7 linked regions of the Homo sapiens genome follow. The protein of the gene in region 1 purifies or fractionates together with the protein of each later gene. This does not show direct contact. Each region holds a gene or a part of one and is shown in the gene's direction. Other genes may lie near its edges. The genes, in order: SLC9B2, ABCB1, ENPP1, ALDH18A1, DHX37, RP2 and DDX47.

Evidence for each region.
Region 2: the proteins of SLC9B2 (region 1) and ABCB1 purify together in Homo sapiens (affinity purification with mass spectrometry; one large-scale study listed by BioGRID and IntAct). This does not show direct contact.
Region 3: the proteins of SLC9B2 (region 1) and ENPP1 purify together in Homo sapiens (affinity purification with mass spectrometry; one large-scale study listed by BioGRID and IntAct). This does not show direct contact.
Region 4: the proteins of SLC9B2 (region 1) and ALDH18A1 purify together in Homo sapiens (affinity purification with mass spectrometry; one large-scale study listed by BioGRID and IntAct). This does not show direct contact.
Region 5: the proteins of SLC9B2 (region 1) and DHX37 purify together in Homo sapiens (affinity purification with mass spectrometry; one large-scale study listed by BioGRID and IntAct). This does not show direct contact.
Region 6: the proteins of SLC9B2 (region 1) and RP2 purify together in Homo sapiens (affinity purification with mass spectrometry; one large-scale study listed by BioGRID and IntAct). This does not show direct contact.
Region 7: the proteins of SLC9B2 (region 1) and DDX47 purify together in Homo sapiens (affinity purification with mass spectrometry; one large-scale study listed by BioGRID and IntAct). This does not show direct contact.

The regions. Positions count from the first base shown.
Region 1 is NC_000004.12:103,073,962-103,078,184, reverse strand, and holds the start of SLC9B2 (sodium/hydrogen exchanger 9B2), read left to right. Parts: upstream 1-1,423; 5' UTR 1,424-2,001; intron 2,002-4,223. UniProt on the Homo sapiens protein: Electroneutral Na(+) Li(+)/H(+) antiporter that extrudes Na(+) or Li(+) in exchange for external protons across the membrane. Uses the proton gradient/membrane potential to extrude sodium.
Region 2 is NC_000007.14:87,517,385-87,520,884, reverse strand, and holds part of ABCB1 (ATP-dependent translocase ABCB1), read left to right. Parts: intron 1-8; coding exon 9-109; intron 110-1,418; coding exon 1,419-1,559; intron 1,560-3,500. UniProt on the Homo sapiens protein: Translocates drugs and phospholipids across the membrane. Catalyzes the flop of phospholipids from the cytoplasmic to the exoplasmic leaflet of the apical membrane.
Region 3 is NC_000006.12:131,881,020-131,884,519, forward strand, and holds part of ENPP1 (ectonucleotide pyrophosphatase/phosphodiesterase family member 1), read left to right. Parts: intron 1-1,325; coding exon 1,326-1,455; intron 1,456-2,674; coding exon 2,675-2,755; intron 2,756-3,500. UniProt on the Homo sapiens protein: Nucleotide pyrophosphatase that generates diphosphate (PPi) and functions in bone mineralization and soft tissue calcification by regulating pyrophosphate levels.
Region 4 is NC_000010.11:95,646,712-95,650,211, reverse strand, and holds part of ALDH18A1 (delta-1-pyrroline-5-carboxylate synthase), read left to right. Parts: intron 1-3,500. UniProt on the Homo sapiens protein: Bifunctional enzyme that converts glutamate to glutamate 5-semialdehyde, an intermediate in the biosynthesis of proline, ornithine and arginine.
Region 5 is NC_000012.12:124,979,132-124,982,631, reverse strand, and holds part of DHX37 (probable ATP-dependent RNA helicase DHX37), read left to right. Parts: intron 1-8; coding exon 9-121; intron 122-1,793; coding exon 1,794-2,142; intron 2,143-3,500. UniProt on the Homo sapiens protein: ATP-binding RNA helicase that plays a role in maturation of the small ribosomal subunit in ribosome biogenesis. Required for the release of the U3 snoRNP from pre-ribosomal particles.
Region 6 is NC_000023.11:46,875,043-46,878,542, forward strand, and holds part of RP2 (protein XRP2), read left to right. Parts: intron 1-2,462; coding exon 2,463-2,548; intron 2,549-3,500. UniProt on the Homo sapiens protein: Acts as a GTPase-activating protein (GAP) involved in trafficking between the Golgi and the ciliary membrane.
Region 7 is NC_000012.12:12,812,073-12,816,145, forward strand, and holds the start of DDX47 (probable ATP-dependent RNA helicase DDX47), read left to right. Parts: upstream 1-1,273; 5' UTR 1,274-1,295; coding exon 1,296-1,382; intron 1,383-2,058; coding exon 2,059-2,152; intron 2,153-4,073. UniProt on the Homo sapiens protein: Required for efficient ribosome biogenesis. May have a role in mRNA splicing. Involved in apoptosis.

The DNA.
Region 1 (4,223 bases):
GTTTTATGTTTGTTTTTTACTTGTTGCAACCTCAAATGACCAAATGGTATGATGCACACTGAGATACTCAATAAATGTGCAGTGATTCTTAGCCTTTTTTCCTAGAACTTTAATATTAACATGGAAAATTCTGAAATGGACAACAAAAAGATAACACTTTGTGTATGGGGAAGAATATCATGCAGTTGATGACGGTACATTAAAATTCACACAAAAGGACATTTTGACTAGCATTCAGAAAGAGTCCATTGATTATAAGATTATCTATGAGGTTTTGGACCGGGCACTACACTACCGAATTATGGCTAACTTTGGTTTGTGATCTAGACCAAGTCACCCAATCTATCTTGGATTTTAGTTTTCTGGTTTATGAAATTAAGGAGTTAAGCTAAATGACTTGGGTTTCTTTTCGTGTATCATAATCAAAATGCTGTAACTTCTCTAGTGAATTCATAGAACACTGACTCTTACAAGTATGTCATGAAATACTTTATGCTGTGAGCAGGTATACATGTATAATATATGTATAGCTATGAACAAATAAATTTTAAATAAATGCACAACGAATTCTACAAAATGGGCTCCAACATTAACAAATGATCTGAGTTAGTCTTTCTCACAGCCGACCATAAACTATAAAACATTTTTATAAACACTATCAGCAATAAAAACGAAGTAAAATCTAGCCAAAAAATTCAATGTTCTCCAAAGTCATGTTAATCAAATCAGGTGATATATTAATGAAGTACATATGACTAAAAGGAAAAATATATGTCATTCCTGTGGTAAGAGGAAGCTGAATGTCACTAGAAATTTTTACAAGCTTTAGGAGAGGAAGAGTTCCGTTTAGGAAAATAATCATTTCAGATGATCTGAAGAAGGGTATTGGATGGAACCTATCCAATAGGTTCATCACAAAAGAGGACCTGAGAGACAAGAATGAATGGTTTCTGACTGGTGGAGAAATTTGAGGATAATCTCCCTTGCTTGAAAAGCGGTGATTAAGATTGGCACTTGCTTACAGGAGTGAAAAACAGGTAAGGGGTGCGCGCGTCTTAACACACACAAGAGGAAATACAGAGAAAAGGAAGACACAAACATGAAATGAGAATTAAATGAAATAGAATCACACTGCTGATAGAAGGGTTAAAAATCTAAAATACAACAAGAAGGGCAGGTGTTAAGCGATAAAGGGGGGCAGAACAAGTCTTTTATCCGGCCATTTAATTGGTCACCTTAAGAAAGAATCCTATCTTCCCACCGCAGCTGAGAAGACACTTCTAAGAGGTACAGCTAAAAGGTGGAGGACTGATAGACAACTTAGAGGTTGGTTTCGGGAACGATAAAACAAGTAACGGGCTGCCCGGCCTGCGCCGCGGAGTCCCGAGGAGCCTGCGCTGTGCTCCTCTCGCGGTGTCTCGTCATCTCCGGGAAGACTCGGCGCCTGGGTCCGCGCTCTCTGGGTAAGCTTTCCGGGAAGCTTTCCCGGGAGCTCGCTGGTCCTGGCCCCAGAAGCCTGCGGACCCGCCCAGGGAGGATAAGCAGCTGAAAGACCGCGCGGTGCCGCTCCGAGGCCCCGGGACGTGGGCCCATGGTCGGCCTGGCGCCACCTTTCCGGGGGAAGCCACGCGCACCAGGCATCGCACGCGGCTCTGCACCCGCGCCGCCGGACCTGAAACCCGGCGGAGGGCACACGGGGCTGCCGCTGCGGGCCCCGGACCAACCCATGCTTACTCCGGAGCCTGTACCGGCGCCGACGGGTCGGACCTCCCTGCGCGGTGTCGCCCAGCGGGTTCGTGCGAAAGGCGGGGCCGACTACACGCGGTGCCGCGCCCTGAGACCGTTTATCTGCAGTCAACGCAGCCTCCCGGCTCAGCCTGGGAAGATGCGCGAATCGGGAACCCCAGAGCGCGGTGGCTAGACCGGGCTCCGCCGCCTCCCCCACAGCCCCTTTCCTAATCGTTCAGACGGAGCCTGGTCGACTTCGCCGGAGACTGCCAGGTGAGAGGCCCCAGAGACACTAAGGGTAAAAATAAACCCAGCGCCAGCGGCGGGTACCCTGTAGGCCTGCTGGACCGGAGACGCGAGCGAGGGGCCCAGCCTTTTCTGTTTGTACACCCGGTGACGGGCGCGTGTCTGTTTACTGTTGTAAGGTGTTGGCGTGGGTTTTCTTGCTTGCTTTTATTTTAGTTCTCAGATTAACCAGAGGGGGTGTTGCCTTTGTGGACTGGGTTAGCATCCTCGAGGTGCTAAGAATCATCGTATGCTATTGACTGAAGAATATAACCTTAAGACAGCAGTAGCTGCTGTAAGAGATAAAGTAAAACATCTCAGTAACTAAACATAGTTCAGGCTTATTTCTCGTTCATGTCAAGTCCATTCACGTGTTCAGCTGTTGGCCTTCTACTCAATTATTCAGGAACCCAAACTCCTTTTATATTATGGCTTTGCTATCCCCTAAGACCTTGGAGTCCTTAGTTTCCAGGCAACGGACAGAAAAAGAAAAGCTACTAGAGGATTGCATGAGGATTGTTTCTTATGGGTGAGGACTGGAAATCACATACTATTTATGTCCACATGCCATTGACCAGACTTCAGTCACATGCCACACTGACCTGCAAGGGAGACTGGAAATGTACTATGGACCCAGGCAGAAGAGTAAACGATTTTGGTAAACACATATCAGTCTCTGACCATCCCTTAAAGGGCAGACTGCATCTTAGTCATCTTTGTTACTCTTGTGCCTATCACACCAGAGAAACTTGTTAAGGCTTTGTGAGGCCGAGGTGGGCATATCACCTGAGGTCAGGAGTTCGAGACCAGCCTAGCCAACATGGTAAAACCCCATCTCTACTAAAAATATAAAAATTAGCTGGGCATGGTGGTGCACGCCCGTAATTCCAGCTATTCCGGAGGCTGAGGCTGAAGAATCGCTTGAACCCAGGAGGCACAGGTTGCAGTGAGCCAAGATTGTGCCACTGCACTCCAGCCTAGGTGACAGAGCAAGACTCCATCTCAGAAAAGAAAAAAAAGGAAATGAAACTTGTTAAGGGATGGGGTTGTTATGTGTCTAAAGTTGAAACTTAACCATATTTCATTGTGATTGCTTAGGAATCATTTATCATCCTTTATCATCCTGTAACTAGATTACAAGATCTGAATATAGGAACTATTTAAGACCGTTCACTTCTGAATCCTCAGCTCAAGGACTGGGACGTAACAAGAGCTTAATAGCTCTTGTTTGTTGAATGAATGAATGAATCATCAGAGAGGAAAACGAGGGAGACAGTTTGTCAATGTTGGAGTTAGGAAATACTGAGAAGGTGACATTTGAGTTAGATTTTGAATTTCTTCAAGTAGAAAAAGCAGAAATGAAACTCCAGGCAGCAATAGTAGTGATATTTTATTGTTGTTGTTTTGTTTCATGAGTGGAAATTTGGAAAACAACCAAACGTTTATAAGTCCAACTTTTCTTCATTCAGTATTCAAATATTACAATTTAACTTCAGGGTAGAGGAGGGGAAATACATAATCTTACAATCCAAATAATTTCTGTTGACTAAAAGAATGGCAGTGAAAACCTTGGCACTAATTTTTAACTTTATAAAATGTTATTTTCTGGACATTTTTGAGAAATTTCAATACAAAGGCAGTGTTCTGATCATTCATTGTCTATGATGATTTTGCACTGTAACAAGAAGCTAGAAAGATAGAAACTAAAGTTTGTAAGACAGAGGTTCCTCATCACTGCTGTTCATCAGGGCTTCTCAGGGATGGTTCTGCAACAAAATCACCTGTTATATTGGTTAGGATGCTTTTGGCTGCAAGTAACAGGATATTCAGCCAAAACTCCCTTCAAAAATACAGATGTACTTTGCTCATACATGAAGATGTTTGAAGGTAGGTGGGTCCAGGGTTTGTTCAGTAGCTCAGTAATATCAGGGCTCTATGTTGCTTTCTGTGTTCAGCTAATCTTGACTTTTCTTCATGGGTGAATGATGGCTGCTAGAATTGTCCCAAGAAACCCATCCACAATCCCAACTTCCCTTGCCTCTTTACCTGGTCATTTAAAGACAAAAAGAGGAGAGGATTTTCCTCCTCTCTCTCTGTCTTTATTAAGAAGGAAAATCTTATGTAATATGCCCCAATAGTCTTGCCTACAAATTCCAATGGCAAGAAATGAATCATGCTCACTCCTTAGCCAATAAGTGGCAAAGAGGAAT
Region 2 (3,500 bases), on another chromosome or scaffold:
TGTTACAGATCGCTACTGAAGCAATAGAAAACTTCCGAACCGTTGTTTCTTTGACTCAGGAGCAGAAGTTTGAACATATGTATGCTCAGAGTTTGCAGGTACCATACAGGTAATAACCGCTGAAGAGTGGGAGGAGAGTGTGAATAATTTTTCAATCATCATATTTGTTTTCAGAGGGATTACTTTGGCTAGAAGGTAGGGAGCAAGTGGAGAAAGTGCTCGAAGGTAAACCATTGAGAAACAGTTGTAATTATGCAGGAGAGAAAGTACAAGACCCTGAACTAAGGCAGGGACATCTCTGAGGTAGAACCTGTAAGAATGGGTCACTGATGAGAAGGGAGGGAGACATGATGCTGAGAATGACTATCTGATGTCCAGGTAGGATATGACCCTATAATTTGCTCTAGTTGAAAATGAGTTATTTATGGAACCTGAAATTTGAGGTACCTGTGGGACACAGAGAGGATGGTGCTTCCTGGGTTTACCTGTCTTTCTGCTTTTTACCCCTTCTCCAGTGCAGACCTTCTTCCTTTAATACAGTCATCCCAGTGAGGGCTCTAATAAGTGGTGTGAACATAAGCAAGCCCAACCTTTCTGAGTCTGTTTCTTATAATAAAAGGAAAGCTGGACTTTATTGATGGATTTTTAAGCTTTTATTTAAAAAAAATGATGGTAGAGCCTTTTTGTCTAAAAAAAAATTATTTGAAATCTTCATATGTGATGAAGGTAAAAGCAGAGTTGATCTGGTAGCAGGAGGGGTTGGAAGCCCAGGGCTGCCCACTTGCTAACCTGCCCCCACCCACACCTCCATATCACTGAGCTGGATCCATATCATGATTCTAGAATGTCAACCCCTTTTTAAAGCCTTCTCTGAGACCCCCGAAGAATTTAGTGCTTCTCCTTTCTTCCTATAACAGATTATTCATAAGGCACCTCTAATGCATAAATAGTAATTCAACTCAAGTCAGGTCTCCTAAGTCAAGAACATGCCTGTTTCCTCTATGTCAACCCATCATGGCCCCTGCACCTTGTAGGTGTTGGGTAACTGTGTGCAGAATGAATATTTACGTAGAGTACTTCCATACTGTGTGTCCAAAAGTGGGGAGAAAGGGAGATAACTTTTACTTATTGATCCCTAACCGGCTCTTTACAGTCATTGGATTATTTTCTCTTTACATCAACACTTTGAGGTGTAGTTAATTCTACATTAAAGATAAAGACACTGAGTCTCAGAGGTTAGGCAGTTTCCCAAATTTGCACAACTGTTAAGTGTAAAGTGAGGACCAAACTTAGTTCTTTGGAAACGAAACCCATTTTTGTTGGTCATGCCTCTGTGCCCTACTGCCAACCTATCAAAAGTTACATTTTAAGGACTGAGAAATGAAAGTGGAATGAGTTTTCAAATGTCTTCTTTTCAGAAACTCTTTGAGGAAAGCACACATCTTTGGAATTACATTTTCCTTCACCCAGGCAATGATGTATTTTTCCTATGCTGGATGTTTCCGGTTTGGAGCCTACTTGGTGGCACATAAACTCATGAGCTTTGAGGATGTTCTGTTGTAAGTATTGGGCTATTATTTAGTTAAGCTCTAAAAATAAAGCTGGGATGAACATGCTTCATGTCTAGATAGGAAACCCTACTGTGAAGCCTCATGAAGAGATTCTGGTGATTCCTAAATCGGCATTTCTGCCTCTGAGTCTTCATGTGCCACCATTGAAGCACCCCCTTTCATTTGGAGGAGCAGTAACTTCTTTCCTCATTGCTGGCTCACACATAGTTGACCTTTTCAAATCTGTGACTGAGTGGAGTGATTCCATTCGGAGATTTTGAGAAGGCCTTGGCATTTGGGAAGAAGCCTAGCCCTGAGCAAGGAGTCTGACTGGCTCCTTTTAAAGGACTTTCTTACAGAGCAAGTAAAATACAGATGTGTTGTACTAAGTTCTGCAAGCCTTTGGCAATTCCAGGATATGTTTACTTTCCCTTGATAAGAGAGGAATTGGAAGGTAAGAGCCAAATGAATTCAGAAATGACAAAGGAAAAGTTATATTGGGATTTTTCTGCTACATTGTTCTGAATGTAGATAATTGTACCTCGGTCAGAGGAAGATAAGCCTGAAGCAATTATACTACAAAAGTACCCAAATATGCAATTTGGTGGTCAAAAGTATGTGTAATCTTTCTGAGCTTCTAGATTTGGAGGTGGGTAAGATTCTGCCTCTTGATAGCATAACATAATTAGTAGCGATATAATTTTATATTTAAACCAGAATCATATAAGCCTGGCAGTATAATGTGTTAGTATAGTATTTCTGTCCTTTTTAAACATTGAGTTGTTCATGCATTACAGTTTGCTCAGGATGACCCCCAAAAAGACATCTAAATTTCCATTAAAGATGTACATTGGACAAATGATATGCAGGTGCTATTTGTGATTATGGCCTAGAGATCAAAACCAAGTATCACTGGCATTGGGGCTTTGATTAGATAATTATTTGATATATTGCTTTACTCCAAAAAATTGAATTGATGAAAGTTGCTGACATTGGGGCATTTAGGTTTGCAAAATCAACCTTCCAAGTTAAGGAAAAGGAAGACCTGTCTGAAGAACAGTGCATTAGAAAAAGGTCCCATAGGTTTAAATGATCACAAGTCCAAGATTAACTATCGGTATTTTATTTAGTGCTAGTTAAACAAACAAACAAACAAAAACTAATGACACAATATGCTACACAAACATAGGCATAGAGTCCAGAGGAAAGAAAGCGATGAATTCCCTGTATTCTGGGCGGGTTCCCAAGTATTATGTCTGTTCCAGGCTTGTGTTTAAAAAAAGCATATTAATAAATGTGTCTAGAGAAGGGCAGTGAAAGGAGTTATCAAAGAAGCAAAGGAGTTTTTAGCAATATTTCAAGACTTGTAGGCCTGTCTTATGTAAAAGGAAGTAAATTTTTTCTTCAGTTTGAAAAAGAACTGTTTAACAATAGACAATCAAACATGCTACTTCCTAAAACAGAGGATGGAAGCCAATTTAGGGGAGGTGTCCAGGCACGAACATGGAGAGCTGGACTTGATACCTGTAAGGTCCTTCCCAACTTTAAGTTGCTGTGATTCCCATGTCATAGATAAGAACGTCAATGCATCTTAAGAGCAACATGATATCTGGCTCTGTAAGAAACTTTCTTTTGGTTGCACAATTCATAGGTTTTTAAGAATCTGATGTAATTCCAACATCACTGACTGTATCCGTTGTTGATTACCACAATAATGCTGTGTAACAACCAGCCACTAAACCTCAGAGACATACATATTTTTGCCCACAAACCTATGGGTTAGCTGTGAAGTTCTACTGATCTGGATTAGGCATAGTGGATCTCGGCTGGACTTACTCATGTGTCTGTAGTGGATTGTGTCTGTAGCTGGTTGGTTGGGATTCAGACAGCTCTCCTCCATGTGTGCCTCATCCTCCAGCAGGCTATCCTGGGTTTGAGACAGTGGCAGAA
Region 3 (3,500 bases), on another chromosome or scaffold:
TTACGTGGAATTGAAATTTTAAACTGGGCTGAAACTGAAAGTGACTGGCAAGGTACAGGATGCCCTAAGGGAACGACAAAGGGATTTGAGAGAGCATAGTGGAGGGCAGCAGTTTGATTTAAAAAATAAAATGATTTTTACTAATCAGTGAGACAACCAAATAAAAAGATAGGGATATGTCTGTTTATATATAATTTCTATGTTACAAATATATAATACACACATATATTTATATAAAATTTCTTGAACTTTGATTTTTAAAATTTTTCAATACTGTCTTCAAACACCAAACACTTAAAAAAATTTTTGACTTTGTAATTGATCAGTCTACACCATTTTTCATAGGCACCCCATCCTATTTATTAATATTTATACCTTAATTATGGGTTCCTTGATTCCATTTTCAGTTTTCTTATGTAATTAAAATGCATAACTTTACAGTCATTGCGATGCTTGAGGTTTTTACATTGCTGTTCGGTGACTGTCCTCCTTTGCTCCAGCAACTTTTGGCAGTGTAGTTGACTATGGAAGATAGACTCAGATCTCTAAAAATCAACATTTTACTATATAAAAGCTTAAAATTGACCAGCGCGGTGGCTCACGCCTGTAATCCCAACACTTTGGGGGGCTGAGGAGGGCAGATCACGAGGTCAGGAGTTCGAGACCATCCTGGCTAACATGGTGAAACCCTGTCTCTACTAAAAATACAAAAAATTAGCCAGGCGTGGTGGGTCACACCTGTAATCCCAGCACTTTGAGGGGGCTGCAGCGGATGGATCACCTGAGGTCAGGAGCTCAAGACCAGCCTTGCCAACATGGTGAAACCCCATCTCTACCAAAAACACAAAAATTAGCCAGGCGTGGTGGCAGATGCCTGTAGTCCCAGCTACTCGGGAAGCTGAGGCAGGAGAATCGCTTGAACCTGGGGGGCAGAGTTGCGGTGAGCCGAGATTGCGCCGCTGCCCTCTAGTCTGGGTGACAGAGTGAGACTCCATCTTAAAAAAATAATAATAATAAATAAATAAATAAATAAATAAATATTTAAAATTGTGTAGATAAAATCATTCTAAACATTATTTCATATTAGCATAGCAGAATCTGAAAATATTTGCATAAATATGACAATTAATATCTTTAATATTGTAAAGCATTTTTACACTTTAGTTAGAAAAAAAGATGAATATACTAGTAGGAAAATAGGGAAGGACATGAGCTGACAGCTAGAGCTTCATAATTTTATGATGTAGTTCACCTTTAAATATTAATAAAGCAATTTTCTTCTCTGTGCCTGATATCTGAGAGTTCTTCTCATTTTCGTTCTTCAGGACAGTTTCTCTACGGAAGACTTCTCCAACTGTCTGTACCAGGACTTTAGAATTCCTCTTAGTCCTGTCCATAAATGTTCATTTTATAAAAATAACACCAAAGTGAGTTACGGGTTCCTCTCCCCACCACGTAAGTTTTTTCCTCTCCTGACCTTCCCTTTTCTCCTTTTTGTTTTCTTTCTTGTTTATAAATCCTACCATACATTATAGGGTAATATATATATTACCTATTATATATATATAAATATTACCTATTTTATATATATATTATATATATAATATATATAAAGTATATATATTACTATTTTATATATATATAGCTATATATATATAGCTTTGTTTATTTATTGGTGAAAAATTGTGGATTTGGTCTAGAACTACCAAGGGAAAAATTTTAATCATCTAAAACTTGAATTTTATAAAATTTTCTTTTTGTTGGGAGGGTAGTTGATGTAGTGCAGATATGGTAAGCAGAACACTTCATGGTTCCTTTCTGCATTTCTTTTAAACAATTTGAGAATATTGTGAAGGTGGAATATATATATCAAGTTGGAAGAATATATCAAGGTTCTTAGGAAGATAACTTTGTTAGGATAAATAACTTTGTTGTTTAAAAAGAAAATGCGTTTGTCAGAGAAGTAGGTAAAGGTAGAGGCTTACATATGCTTGCTTTTTCACTGATCCAGAATCTCTAGGGAATGGCTTTTTTGAAGCTAAGTATTCTATTTTTTGAAATGGCAAATTTGTATGTTGATGAGAAGCCATTTTGGGGCCAGCCTTAAAAGGCAAAAATCAGAAAGCTCCAGGTGCTCAACTACCGTCAGCATCCAGTTCAGTTCCCAGAGTATGTGTCTGAAGTCAGAACTTGGCTATTGCATTATAAAAATAGACCAGGTCCAAGCCTCAAATTCATACAGAGAAGCCTTGTATGGTGTTTCGAGACAGACATCCTGTGATGTTTTTTCTGGGTAGCAGGTGTTGTTCTGGAGCCAGATGTTCTCTTTTTTCTTTTCACTGTGAAAAAGTGTAAGGAAAGAAGATTGTCAACACAATTCCTTTTAGTTGAAATGAGGGCAATAACGTTTGAATATGTTTAATTTGGGGCTCTTGTTATTAAAGTTTATGTTTCGTTGACATGCTCATCTTGAAAAGACTTCTTAAATATTTTATTTTTGTAAAGGACTTGACCAAACACATTACATTTTCCCTTGACCCTGTACTTGGGAAAGTTTTACAGGTTTAAGATGGTACTCAGCTAATTTTTAAAAATGCTCCCCTAACCATGAGAAACTATAATTTCCTATGTTATTTGTGAAGAATGAAAAAGTTGTCCTCTTTTCTCTTTGTAGAACTAAATAAAAATTCAAGTGGAATATATTCTGAAGCTTTGCTTACTACAAATATAGTGCCAATGTACCAGAGTTTTCAAGGTAAATAATGTTAACTCTATATTTGATAATTTTAATGAATTTGTGCACATATAGGCATAATTCATATGTAATAGGACTTATGGTCTAAATTAAATGAATTAATACCAAATACATTCTTAAAGGTTTAACTTTGAGAATACTAGTACACAAAAATTCTACAAATTATTAGAATTATCATGTATTCTAATTGTATAATTGTTTGCAAACAGTTTTGGTGAGAAAGTATGTGATGCGCTTCCTAAAGTTATCCAGCTAATACAGTCTGCTAACACTTATATTAACTTTCATTCGGCTTCCTTATTTAACTTTTTGGAAGTTCTTGATAATTGTCTATGTTTTCAAATGAATAGATTTTACATCATCATTAACTATTGCAGCATTTGACTTTTACAGGAATAAAAATTTAGTTACTTAAATTGATGTATAGAATATCAAAATATAAGCATATAAGGAGTTTTTAGTCTAATTTATATCTAGAATACTTGTGAATATTTCAAAGTTAATATTCAGATATTAATAGGAAATCGGAATAATATGCCTTGTTTGTGTTTGCGATGTTGCTATGCTTAATGATGACATATGATCACAATTTCAACATGATGTACTTGTTCAGGGATGTCTCAAAGAGAGTTGGGTTCAACGTTTGTCTGTGAGTCCTTTCAAAGGCCAAAGCTGAACAATGAATTTTTGGCCTCACACTAAGATTAGAGCCAAGGCTGGGTGTGGTGGCTCATGCTTGCAGTCC
Region 4 (3,500 bases), on another chromosome or scaffold:
TTTTATGGATTGTACTTTTGGGGTCAAGTCTAAGAACTCTTTGTATAACCCCGTATTCTGAAGATTTTCTCGTATGTTTTTTTCCCGAAAGTTCGATAGTTTTATATTTTATACTTAAATCCATGATCCATTTTTTTTTTGTTTTCTTGAGACAAGATCTTGCTCTGTTGTTACCCAGGGCTAGAGCATAGTGGCACGATCAAGGCTCACTGCAGCCTCAACCTCCAGGGCTCAAGTGATCCTCCTATGTCAGCCTCCCAGGTAGCTAGGACTATGGGTTGCACCACCACAGCTGGCTAATTTTTTTCTTTGTTTTTTTTTTTTATTTTTTGAGACAGGGTGTCACTCTGTCACCCAGGCTAGAGAGCAGTGGTGCAATCATTACTCACTGCAGCCTCAACGTCCCAGGCTCAAGCGATTCTCCTGCCTCAGCCTCCCAAGTAGCTGGGACTATAGGCGTGCACCACCATATCCAGCTAATTTTTATATTTTTTGTTGAGACAGGGTTTTGCCATGTTGCCCAGTCTTGGCACATTTAATTTTTTAAAAAGTTTTTTGGTTGGGCCTGATGGCTCACGCCTGTAATCCCAGCACTTTGGGAGGCCGAGGTGGGCAGATCACGAGGTCAGGATATCGAGACCATCCTGACTAACACAGTGAAACCCCGTCTGTACTAAAAAACACAAAAAATTAGCCGGGTGTGGTGGCAGGTGCCTGTAGTCCCAGCTGCTTGGGAGGCTGAGGCAGGAGAATGGCATTAACCCGGGAGGAGGAGCTTGCAGTGAGCCAAGATAGCGCCACTGCACTCTAGCCTGGGTGACAGAGTGAGACTCCGTTTCAAAAAAAAAAAAAAAAAAAAATCTGTAAAAATGGAGTCTATGTTGCTCTGGCTGGTCTCGAACTTCTGGGCTCAAAAGATCCTCCCACCTTGACCTCCCAACCTGCAGGAATTACAGGTGTGAGCCACTGCACCCAACTTCGTGATCTATTTTGAGTTAATTTTTGTATAAGGTGTGAGGTTTAGGTCAATGTTCATCTTTCAACTTTTAATACTAGTTGTTCCAGCATCATTTGTTGAAAGGCTGTTTGTGATGTTTTGAGTTGGCTAGCTCCTTGATATCACCTAAATCTTATCAGTAGTCCATTTCCAAGCTTCATTGCAAGATGACTTGCCAATCAACTAATCAAGCTTGTCATTAGACAGAAAAATCTCTTTCCTATTAATGTAGAGTATAAGGGCTGAAAGTTCAGGTTTTGGAACCAGTTCCTGGGTTTTTAAAACTAGCCCTTCTGCTTATGAAGTAACTTCGTAGCTTAAAACAACTGTCTGTTTAGGTCACAATTCTGTGGGATGGTATTTTGGACTGGGCTCAGCTGCACAGTGGTTCTGTGTCTGTGTCAGGTCTCAGATTGACTTAGGGCTGATTGTTGGGGATGAAGGGGCCTCTGCTGGGATGATACATCATGTACATTCCCTGTGGCTTCTCATTCTCCAGCAGGCTGTTCATTGCTGCTTTGCATGATGCTTGCAGGGTCCCCAGAACAGGAAGCATGGTAGCTACAAGTCCTCTTGAGATGTAAACTCAGAATTTATGCACTGTTCCTTCTGCCACATTTGTCAAAGCAAGTTACGGGGCCAGCTCAAATTTAAGAAGTTTGGAAGATTGACTCACCTGTTAATGGAGAAGCTGCAAAAGGATTGTGGCCATTTTTGTAATCTGGCAATGCTGGTAAATTACTCAGTTACTCTGAGCATCAGTTTCCTTATTTATAAAATGGGGATAATAATAATAATGAACTCATAATAATACCTAACTTATGAGGCTTAATTCATGAGAATTCAGTAAGATGATGATGATGATGATGATGATGATGATGATGATGATGATGAAGGTAGAATATGGAAAAGCTCAAACTATTTTTCCTCTGCTCTCACTCCATAACAACAATCAACACAGAAGACTTCTGTGACCAAATGTACGGGGTTGCAGTGGACATCAGTTGGGTATCCTCCAATTCAATTCTGACACTGTCTCCCTGAGGACAGCCCACAGGTTGAGGGCTCAGTCCCTCAAGATCATCCCCATCTTCCTAGTAGTCCTGAGTCCAGGCTTCTGGAACTTCTGACTGACTGGCTTCAAGTTGGGGTTCCCACAGTACCCTCTTTGGGCTTGATTGATTTGCTAGAGTGATGCAGAGAACTCAGGGAAACACTTAGATTTACCAATTTATTACAAAGGAAACAGATGAAGAGATATGTAGGGTGAGGTGTGTGGTAAGAGGCACAGATCTTCCATGCCCTTCCGGGGCACGCCACCCTCCAGGAACCTCCACATGTTCAGCCATCTGGAAGCTCTCCGAACCTTGTCCCCTTGGACCTCTTATGGAGACTTATTGGATAGGCATGATTGAAGCATGGGCAACTGTGTCGAAATGTGATTGAACAAAAAGAATGTGACCTGATACTAATAGACTGAGTGGGGTAACCCAGCAAGGCCTGTCTGTTCAGATTTTGTCTTGGTCTTCCTGTGCAATATTTCTTCCTCCAAGGTATGGGGCAGGACCCTCTCTGGACTGAGGGTCTTACAACCCACAATCAAATTAGAGTCCTGCCTTGAGTAGGTGAAAGGAGTTCAGGAGAATACCAGAGAGATTCTGTTTCCTTACACCAACATTATAACAAAAGACTGTAAAAAGGATTATTAGAGTTATAAGCCAGGGACCATGGATATATATGTCATGTCACAGTAAGTAACACTTTTTTTACAGTACCAGTTAATATTCATTGAGTATTTTGTGCCAATCTCTGTTCATGCATGAACTTGTTTTATCCACCCTACCAACCTTATGAGATAGTTAAGGAGACAGCAAGTAAGTGAAGGGGTTGAAATTTCACTCAGGCAGTCTGGCTCCAGAGCCAACACTTGTCCTTTTTACTCCTGTAGAAGGTGTATGAATACTTAGCACAACTCCTGGTATATAGTAAGTGTTCACTTCAGTATTTTTATTGATACTTATCCTCATTAGACTCATTCACAGAAGGAGGCACTTTCTAATTGTTTCCCTAGGTTTTTGAATTTGGGGATTTGGATTTTTCTGGAACGTGGAGCTCTTTCACTGACCATGATAAGCAGAATAGCAGAGGGAAAAAAAAAGAAAAGAAAGGCAAAATGAGAACGCTTGTGGAGATAAACAGAGAAGGCAATGGAAGGCCAGAGAGAAAAAGAGTAGTCATGTCTGGGTCCCTTCTTGTTGAGGCCTGGAACACAGCCTCATTGGTTACTGGGCATAAGGATTCTGATGCTGAAGAAGTAAAGGGTTCTCCTCTGTCAGAGTGGTAAGAGTATAATCCGTGGCCCTTAAGAAGAACATGGACAACCCCTCCCATCCCCCACCATGCCACATCTGTACACACATACACTTCAGTATGCCCTCATACCTACTAAGAGGGGACAGATTTTCTTTGGAACTTAGAGCCTAAAAGTTCCTTAGAAGATGGG
Region 5 (3,500 bases), on another chromosome or scaffold:
TTTCCCAGCGAGCAGAGATGCTACAGAAGCTGAGTGAAGTCCAGGCTTCCGAAGCTGAGATGAGACTCTTTTATACCACTTCCAAGCTAGGCACTGGGAACCGCATGTATCACACCAAAGAGTGAGTTGGCCAGTCCTTTGCTAACCCTGCCCTCCCTCCAGGGCCCCCTAGGGAGGGCGCACAGGTTATGGGGTCCTCTGGGGGTGGAACATTTGAGAAAATACCTTTATGGTGGCCTGAGTGGCTGAAAATTCATTGTCATCCTAAATGCCTCTAGTGGGTAAAGGCCACAGATGCTGCTGAACCTTCTGCGACACACAGGACAGCAAAGTTTCTCGCTCCAGTGATGTCGGTGTTTTCCTGTGGTGTAGAGTCCCTTGTTACAGCTCTTCCAGCTTTTGTGCAGCTGATTAGGCCAGAAATTGCCATTAGGTGGTCAAGGGCTGGATTTGGCCCATCAGCGGGTTTGGTTTGGTTTGTGTCGTGTTTTTTTTTGTTTTTTTTTTTTGAGACAGAGTCTTGCTTTGTCACCCAGGCTGGAGTGCAATGGCGTGATCTCAGCTTACCGCAACCTCCACCTCCCAGGTTCAAGCGATTCTCCTGCCTCAGCCTCCCAAGTAGCTGGGATTACAGGCATGCACCACCAAGCCCGGCTAATTTTGTATTTTTAGTAGAGACGGGGTTTCTCCATGTTGGTCAGGCTGGTCTCGAACTCCCAACCTTGGGTGATCTGCCCGCCTCGGCCTCCCAAAGTGCTGGGATTACAGGCGTGAGCCACCGCGCCCGACTGGTTTGTGTCGTTTTTTAAGGCATGAGTGCTGTTTGCCAATATGTTAGCTTCCTGGCGCTGCCATAACAAATTACTGCAAACAGCGGTGGCTTAGAACAACCAAGCCAGAAGGGTGCCGTGGCTCATACCTGTAATCCTAGCACTTTGGGAGGCCGAGGCGGGTGGATCACCTGAGGTCAGGAGTTTGAGACTAGCATGGCCAACATGGTGAAACCCTGTCTCCACTAAAAATACAAAAATTAGCTGGGCATGGTGGCTCATGCCTGTGGTCTCAGCTACTCTGGCGGCTGAGGTGGGAGGATCACCTGAGCCTGGGAGGTTGAAGCTACAGTGAGCCGTGATTGCACCACTGCACTCCGTCCTGGGCGACAAGGTGAATTCATGTTCCCACCTAGTCTCGACTAGTTGGACGATCCGGCCACACCAGCAGTGTCCCCACCAAGCTGCTGACCCTTAAATGGCCTGTGTGCCCCTCCCACCCAGTCCCACCCCACTCTGTGGTCTCCTCAGCCTGTGCTGCTCATTTACATGAGGCCTGACTGGTGCCTGTGAGCACTGTCAGTTAGTGACTGTTTATCGAGTGCAGAGACTGTCCCAGGCTCTCTGCTAGGCCCTGGGGATAGAGCAGTGCACAGAAATAAAGTCCTTTCTCTTAAGGAGCTTCCCAGTGTCATGGCGGGAGATGTAATCGTGGGAAGTCATCAGGCGAGTGCATCTGTGTCCCACGCTGGGAAGCACTGAGCAGAAAATGAAGCAGGGAAGAGCGAGGTGGAGGGAGAAGGGTGAGATGTGGGGTCTGTGTGTGGTCAGGGAGTCTCCCTGACAGCTAGTGCTTAAGCAGAGGCTTAAGTGGAGTGAGAGGAGGTATCTGCAGGAAGGGCATTTCAGGGAGTGGAACAGCAGGTGCAAAGTCCCTGAGGCAGAAAGGGGTATGGCCTTGGAGTCCTGACCTCTGGGATTGAGGTGGGGCCTCTGTGCCTGAAGTCTCTGCTATCTCAACAGGAAGGCTGACGAGGTGGTAGCCCCGGGCCAGGAGAAGATCAGTAGCCTCAGCGGTGCCCACCGGAAGCGTCGCCGCTGGCCCTCAGCTGAGGAGGAGGAGGAGGAGGAGGAGGAGTCGGAATCGGAGCTGGAGGAGGAGTCGGAGCTGGACGAGGACCCAGCTGCTGAGCCGGCTGAGGCTGGTGTGGGGACCACCGTGGCACCTCTGCCGCCAGCTCCAGCACCCAGCAGTCAGCCCGTGCCGGCTGGGATGACTGTTCCTCCTCCTCCAGCTGCAGCCCCACCACTGCCCAGGGCCCTGGCTAAGCCCGCCGTCTTCATCCCCGTGAACCGCTCCCCGGAAATGCAGGTTCGCCACCCCGTGTTTGTGATTAAGAATCTAGGTTAGCGGGCAAGGGGCGCACAGAGGGCGTCCTGGTGAAGTGGGGCAAGGGCATCCCTTCTCTGTGCCTCCATGTCCCCATCTGGGAAAGGGGAGAGTGACTGCGCCTCCCTTGAGGCTGTGGCAGGGATTGGTGCGCGAGGAGGATCACAGTGCAGGGCGGGTGTCTGGCGGCACGCCTGGCAGGCTCGGGGCCCTGGAGGTCGGCGGCAGTAGCTTCATCGCCACTGCCCTCTGACCAGCGGGCCTGGCCTGGGCTGCCCCGATCCAGACAAGAGTTTGGGCTGTGAATCAGTTGACCCGAAATCAAGTGCTGATTCCCCTGCTCTCCAGCTCACTTCCCGCGCATCTGTAAAATGGGAATATTCCGGCTACTGAAGGGGCTCCCCCTCTCTGTGCCTGTTTCCTTCCTGGTACAATGAGTGTCTCACTGGGTTGTGATGACAATGAAAGGATTTGGGGCATGGAAAGCCCACAGCCCACGTAGGAACTCTGGATCCCTAGAGGAGTAATGTTGGCCGTTGAATGGAATTGGGATCCTGCTTCTAAGTACATTTTTCTGCTTTTATAAGTCTTCATCAGGGTAAGCTGACCGCTCTAGCAAATGACCCCAAAGTGCCAGTGGCTTCACACCACAAACGTTTGCTTCTAGGTGATGTCATCACCCAGTGCCATCTGGTGGCAAGGAGGGTGTGGGGTTCTGCTCCGCGCGGTCACTCAGGGGCTTGGCCTCCTCCATCCCGTGTCCCTGCCATCCCTTGGGACTTCAGTTCCTGCTTTTCTTTGTGAATTTTTCCCTATTCGTATCCTGTCCATATTCCTAAGCAATACATACCGTAGGTTTGCCTGTATTTAAAAGTGGCATCATGTCCTTTACGTTATTCCAGTTTGCTTTTTTGTTACTCAGCATTATATCTTGGGATACATCCATGTTGATGCAGGCAGCTGAGGCTCATTTACTTTTTCCCCACTGCTATCGAGTATTCACGGTGTGAATATAGCGCAGGATGAGTATTCTGTTGCTGGATAGTTGGTTGTTTTAGCTTTTTGCTGTTATCTTCACTGCTGTTTTTGTTGTTTGTTCGTTTGAAACAGGGTCTCACTCTGTCACCCAGGCTAAAGTGCAGAGGTTTGATCTCAGCTGACTGCAACCTCCGCCTCCGAGGCTCAAGTGACCCTCCTGCCTCACCCTCCCAAAGAGCCTGGGACTGTGGGCACACGCTACTACGCTTGGCTAACTTTGTATTTTTTTTGTAGAGACGGGGTTTTGCCATGTTGCCCAGGCTGGTCTTGAACTCCCAAGCTCAGGCAACTCCCAAACTCAG
Region 6 (3,500 bases), on another chromosome or scaffold:
AATTTTTTTTGGCAGGAATACATAGATGGTACTGTTTCCTGTTGCATTAATTGAGAAGGCACATAATGTTTGATTGTTGTACTTTTAGGGATACTAAGATTTAATGGTTGGGTTTACACGGTGACGACCTTCTCTTTTTATTGTAGAGTTTCCTGCAGTCTTCTCTGTGGGATGCTAAAACCATTGATGATTGTTGCCTGAACCAATTGTTTTAATAGGCGTTGCAAAATGACTGTTTTCTGTATTTTCTTTCTTTTTTTTTTTTTTTAGCAAACTTACTTTTTAATCTTGTCACTACCTCTGCATTTATTAACAGATGTTAACAGAACTCCTCGTATGCCAGAGCTGTTTGGTTAACTTGAAATATGCTTCATGTCAGAAAAGCAGAATAAATAAAGAGAAAAATAAGCATCAATTTTCAGAGTAGTGAATTGGTGCCCTAGCAACCTCCATTGGTATACAGTGAATTTTGTTTCTCTCTTCTTTTTTTATTTTCCTTAAAAATATCTGGTAGTAAGGAGGATCTCTCTAAGTATCATTATGAACTCATGACTTTTTATATATTAATTTTAATAAATCAGAGTCATTATTCCTTCTGTTTCACTATGTCTCATCTTTGGCCATTGGGAGCCCCTTCAGGCTGGCTTCTGTCTCCTTTTGATAGAACCCCACTGGCCTTTGATAGCTTCATTACTTTTTGGCTGAAGAAAATATTCCACATTGACCTTAATCCATTTCTTGCCCCAGACATGGAATCATCTATTTTTCTAAGATTACTTAGTTATTTTTAGTGGGGAATGATATTTAGAAATACATGTTAGGTGCTATGTATTACTGGGTTGTCATTTCTTTTAAGCTTTTTCAGTGGACATAGCTAGAAACTATGTATTTTTAAAAAGGAAAAGATCATGAGTTTACATTGATATTTCTAAATAAAAATTTAAGATTTTAAGCTTTTCTTTTGTAAGGTTAGATGTTTTATTACAATATGTTCTTGAACTCCTGGCCAGGGCTGAAGGCAAGAGGATTGCTTGAGGCCAAGAGTTTGAGACCAGACTGAGCAACATAGTGAGACCCCATATCTATTTTTTTTTTGAGACATGGTCTCGCTCTGTTGTCCAGGCTAGAGTGCAGTGGCTTGATCATGGCTTGCTATAACCTCAAACTCCTGGGGTCAAGTGATCTTTCCATCTCAGTCCCTCGAGTAGCTGGGACTACAGGCCTGTGACCCTGCACCCAGCTAATTTTTTAATTTTTTGTAGAGACGGGGTCTTGCTTTGTTGCCTAGGCTGGTCTTCAACTCCAGGGCTTGTGATCCTCCTGCCTAGGCCTCCCAAAATTCTACGATTACAAGCATGAACCACTGTGCCCAGCCGTGAGATTCTATCTCTAAAAGAAATTTTAATACATTTTTAATAAAGTATACAGGAGGATGTGCATAAGTTATATGCAAATACTATACCATTTTATTAATATATAAGGGATTTGAGCAACAAATGGAACCAATCCTTGCAGATACCTAGGGACCACTATATCCTGCCTTTTCTGTATTTGTTGCCTGTATTATATCACAAGCCTCCAAGAAAAAAAAAATCACAAGCCTTCAGTTATCTTGATGCCCAATGTAGTGTAACCTTTTCTTTCTCATTCTTGTACCTTGTACTGCAGCACACGGTTACATTCAATTTAGTGTTTCATATTCATTCACTCTAGTATTTCATTACTTCGTACTTCATTATTCTGTGTTGGTTTGTATTTGTTTAATGGGTTTATGTCTTCTTTCAATACATTTGTAATTTCCTGGAGATCAAGACTTTTCCATCACTGTAGGAGGTTTTTAATGTTTTCAAATTAATGTATGAGAAAGGAGGCACAGATATTCTATTAAAAGGATTAAAAAATAAAAACTTTGTCTATGTTTCTAGAATGTAGCTTTAAGACACACTCAAGGAAAATACTTTCAGATGGTCATCACTTTTGGTGCCTGGCCTCAATTCTTATTTGGCTTAGCTTCATTATTGGTGGCCTAGAACTTGGCTGGTAAGTAGGAGAGTTGGAAGCAAGGCTGGCTGCCTGGCAAAACCTACTTATGTTGACTTGGATTGCTTTTGATCTTATTTGCTATTTTATCAACTATTTTTATACTCCTAAATGAGTAGAATTTCTGTGGTTTTTATAGAAGAATGAGAACCAGAAAAGCCAGACTATTTACAACACTTTAAAAATGTGACACTAGTCCTATAATAGTACTGAAGCTACTTGTTATGAGACTGTGTTAATTTGTTTTATGATTAGCGTAGGAAGAAGCAGCTGAGGTGATATGTCCCATCTGTCTGCTTTCCTCTTCCTTCTCTTTCACCCTCAAAGAAGATGCTGGAGATTCTTCAGGGAAGAATAAAAAGATTAAATTTAGAATATATTTGTATTTGTGTTAAGAAAATGTTTCTTGGGTTTGCTTATAGGTCCTGTTATTGCCTTGGAGTTTAATGGGGATGGTGCTGTAGAAGTATGTCAACTTATTGTAAACGAGATATTCAATGGGACCAAGGTACAAGATTTTATTGACTGTATTTCAATCTAACTTTTCATTTCATCTCCTTTTCCTTACAGTCAAATAATACTTTAATACTTTTGTCCCTAATGTTGCTTGGAATTTTTGGGGTGTGTGTGTGTGTGTGTGTGTGTGTGTGTTTAAAGCAGATCATGATTTTTAGAACCTTTGATAAATAATTGGGAACTAAGCTGTGATTTTTTTCTTGCCAAACTAAACTTTAATTGTTTAAAATAATTACAAAATAAGAATCTATTTATTAAAAACCTTCTATAGTATATGTTTCTAAAGTAAAAAGTCTCATCAAATGTCTTTTCAAGTCTTTGCATTTTTAAAAATACTGATTTGTTGAAAATATTTTATTTCTAAGATTATAGTCTTTAGATGGACGATTCTGTTGCCCAGGGTTCATTTTTACGCCCAGGGTTCATTTTTACTTGCTTCAGTAATGCTTCACCAAAAATTGAACTTCAGATATACATAGAAATCATCACATGTAGGCCGGGCGCGGTGGCTCACGCCTGTAATCCCAGCACTTTGGGAGGCCGAGGTGGGCGGATCACGAGGTCAGGAGATCGAGACCATCCCGGCTAAAACGGTGAAACCCCGTCTCTACTAAAAATACAAAAAAAAATTAGCCGGGCGTAGTGGCGGGCGCCTGTAGTCCCAGCTGCTTGGGAGGCTGAGGCAGGAGAATGGCGTGAACCCGGGAGGCGGAGCTTGCAGTGAGCCGAGATCCCGCCACTGCACTCCAGCCTGGGCGACAGAGCGAGACTCTGTCTCAAAAAAAAAAAAAAAAGAAATCATCACATGTAGGCATTTTCTAAATATATTGATGAAGTTGCTGTATCTAAGAATTGCAGACATAAATAAATTTAAAACCAAACATAGAGGATTACATTAGCAAATCTATAATTGACTACTTTTTGATAAATACCTGGGAGGACAT
Region 7 (4,073 bases), on another chromosome or scaffold:
AAAATATTTCAAGTGTATCTTCTGTTGGATGTGTTTTAGCAGAATGTGATATCTGTGGGCCTATATTTTAATATACTTGATATATTTTATGCTTTTCTCACTAAGCACTAGGTTTTTCAGATCTAATCATATTGTTAAGGGCATGTTTGTAGACACCATGTTCACATTTTAACTATGCATTTTCCCAGTGACGGACACCAGATTGCCCCCAACTTCCCATCCTCAGGAATAAAACTGCAACGAGCACCCTGCGCAGTGTGAGACCCAAGTGACAGGCCACAGGAGGGCACTCGCTGGCCATGGGGCATGCAACATACAGCTCTGAATTTGCTGCTTTCCAGAATAGCCTTAGTAGCTTCACAGTCTTGGTACTTGGAATTCTCTCACTCTGGAATGATTATCTCCTGGGATCTTAAAGCGTTTTCTCCTGCTCAACAGTGAGGTCTTAACTCAAATATCACTGTCTCAGAGAGGCCTTCCCAATCTCACAGTTATCCCCACAACCCACCCTCCCCAGGTTACTCTGTAATTTTTATGTGAACAGGGTTTCACTCTGTTGCCCAGGCTGGAGTACAGTAGCACCATCTCCACTCACTGCAGCCTCAACTTCCGGGGTCAACTGATCCCTCAACCTCAGCCCCCTGAATAGCTGGGATTACAGGCGCATGCCACCATGCATGCCTGACTGATTTTTGCATTTTGCAGACACAGGGTTTCGCCACGTTGCCCAGGCTGGTCTCGAACTCCTGGGCTCAAGTGATCCGCCCGCCTCGTCCTCCCACAGTGCTGGGGTTACAGGCGTGAGCACACCCAGCTACTTTTCACAATTTGAAATGCTCTGTGATAGCTTATTTATGATCTGTCTTCTTTTTCTTCACGAGGGCAGGGGTCGCTGTCCTATTCACCAGCCATCTAGCATAGCCTTAGCAAATGGTAGGTTCTCAACATTATTGAATAAAGTAATGACATAATAAAAAAATAGTATTGTAATATCAATCCGTTCCAAACTCTATGGTTAGAAAAGCGGGGAACATAACTGGCGACACACGTAGGGAAGGCTCTTTAAAAGGGACCTAAAGGTCAACTGGAGTCCCTGGTGATCAGCCCCTTCTGCACTCGGATCTATTCCGCAAGCCTACGCGCCCATATTCACTGGGCCCCACCTGCCTAGCGGACGGGTGCAATCCCCGGCAAGCCCGCAGGGGGCGCGCAGAGCACGTCGTCCGGGGAGAACTAAAACTACATTTCCCAGCATCCCGCGCGCCGCAGACCCACTTCCGGAGACCTCACACAAGATGGCGGCACCCGAGGAACACGATTCTCCGACCGAAGCGTCCCAGCCGATTGTGGAAGAGGAGGAAACTAAAACATTTAAAGACCTGGTGAGAATGGATGACGCTGGCTTCTTTTATGTACTCTGGTGCTAGGCTCAGGGAGACCCCAGGTACCTTAGATCCCGCTCTGATAGTGTACAAAAGCATCTTGGGGCCTAGCTTGGGTTTTCCCCAGAATTTCAGAGGGCTGGGTTTCGGACGTGCTCTGAGTTTGGGTGGTGGGAGGGCTGCTGGGCCCTGAGACCCCCTATTTGCCCTATTCGCCACTTTAGTGTGGCAACGTTTGTATGTGCATCCAGGAGGTTGTACATATGGGGAATGGAATTGGTCTCTTTATAACTGGAGCTTTGGAGTCAGATGAACCAACCAGATTTGAATTTTGACACAGTCTCTTACTGAGGACAAGTTGTTACCTCTCTGTGTTTCTCTTTCCACATCTGTAAATTGGGGATAGTAATAAGTACTTACCTCGCAGAATTGTTGTGACGATTAAATGAGATGATACATGTAAAGCACCTGGCCTTGGCCTTGGTGAGCAGAAAGTGTTCGTTAAGTCTTGAGCTACTGTCTCATGGTATAGTTAAAGAGTAGGCTCTGAGATGCACAGTAAATACCTTTTAAATCAAATACAATGGTTGTACATGATGGGTCTGACAGTCAGTTAAGTAGGAGGGAGGTAGGGGTGTGCTGTTCTTGGCTAAGGTATATTTTTCTGAATTCCAAGGGTGTGACAGATGTGTTGTGTGAAGCTTGTGACCAGTTGGGATGGACAAAACCCACCAAGATCCAGATTGAAGCTATTCCTTTGGCCTTACAAGGTAGGTTGTATGACTTCGTACAGATTTAATATAAAGTTATCTCAATTAGATACCCCTTTTGAAAGCTGTTGCTTGCATACTTCAAGTGAAATAAGGATATGGTCACTAAAGGTACAAAGTTTGGGTAATGGTATTTGAAAATGTCATTCTCCAATTTTACTGAGCTTACTTTCTGTCTTAATAGCTGAAAGGGTTTGTTCTCTGCCACAGATGCTGACTTTAAGGAAGCCCTAGGTTAAAGTTAAAGTATATTAACGACAATCTTGGTAGACTTTATGCATCAGTGGGCGCACACTTAGGGAAGGATGCCTGGAACACATATGTGTGTCTTGAGGAGTTGAGAATTCTTGCTGTGAGCCATGTTTATCAGATTTGTAAAACAGTGGTTAAAGCAGATTGATGGCTACTGGAACTGAAACTAATGGGATGAACTTTTTTCTTTTTGAGATCTTTTTTTTAAGATGGAGTTTTTTTTGAGATAGAGTTTCGCTCTGTCGCCCAGGCTGGAGTGCAGTGGTGCGGTCTTGGCTCACTGCAACCTCTGCCTTCCAGGTTCAAGCAACTCTCCCGCCTCAGCCTCCCAAGTAATGGATTACAGGCGCATCACCATGTCCGGCTAATTTTGTATTTTTAGTAGAGATGGGGTTTCAGCATGTTGGCCAGGCTGGTCTCGAACTCCTGACCTCAAGTGATCTACCTGCCTTGGCCTCCCAAAGTGCTGGGATTACAGGTGTGAGCCACCACATCTGGCTGTAACAGGATGAACTTTAATAGGAGTAGAAGTAAAGTCCTGCTCTTAGATTCCTAAAGTACCAACTTTACAGGATTAGGGTGGGTGATAAAAGAGGCCCAGAGGTCTTAGTTAACTGAAATCTATTAAGATCCTCAGAGAGAGTGAATGTAATCATAGCAATTGTTATAAGAGGGGTAATGTGGCTAATTATTGTTAGTATTAATGTAGCTATTACTGTATTACTATATTATTAGTGATTAATGTAAGCTATAATTATTACTCATTAGTAATTAATGTAGTGATTATTATTGATAATAATTGAAAGATTTAATGATTTGAAGAGCTGTCATGTGGAAAAGGGGTTAGACTTACTCTACAAAATTCCATTTGCTCTTTCCATAAATAGTTACTATTTGTTGTAAATGTAAGGCACTGGAGGTTAACAGTCTGTCCTCTCCAAGAGTCTATAATCTATTAAAGAGATAATTATAAATTTATTACAAGTTGAACAGGGACCTAAGAAAGTTACATTCAGAGTGCACTGAGGGAGAAGAGATTACTTCTAATTAGGATGGATTAGAGAAGATTTATTTCATTTTATTTTTGGCTGGGGAGGTTGGGAAGACATGTGAGCTGAACCTTGAACACTGACTTTAGAAGGATTTAGACATTCAGATATGATGGGAGGGGAGGACTTTCTAGGCATAGGGAACAGCATGAAAAAAAGCCAACTGGAAAACATGGGCATGTATGGAGATTTGCAAGTACTTAGCAGAGTGGTGAAAAAGTTTAGTAAGGTGATTGGGGCCGGATTATGAAGGATTTGAGTGCTGGGTCAAGGAATTTGGTCTTCGTTTCATAGGCAGTGGGGCATTTTTGGAGATGAAGGATTTAGAGTTGTACTCTTGGAAGATTAATCTCATAGCTGTGAAAGATCATTAGAAACAAGAGACTGAGTCTGGGAAACCAATTAGTAGGTCTTTGTAATGATTTTTGCAATCAATAATGGGTAGGGTGGTGGTAGAATGAAAAAGAAAATGTTGGAAAAAGAATCATTATGATTTTACAACCAGTTAAGCAAGTGGAAGGCAAGGAAGGGGTGGGGAAAATCTAAGTTTCTAGGCTGTATGTTTAGGGCATATTATTGGTGTACCACTGATACAAAAAAGGAACGGGGGAAAAATGCAG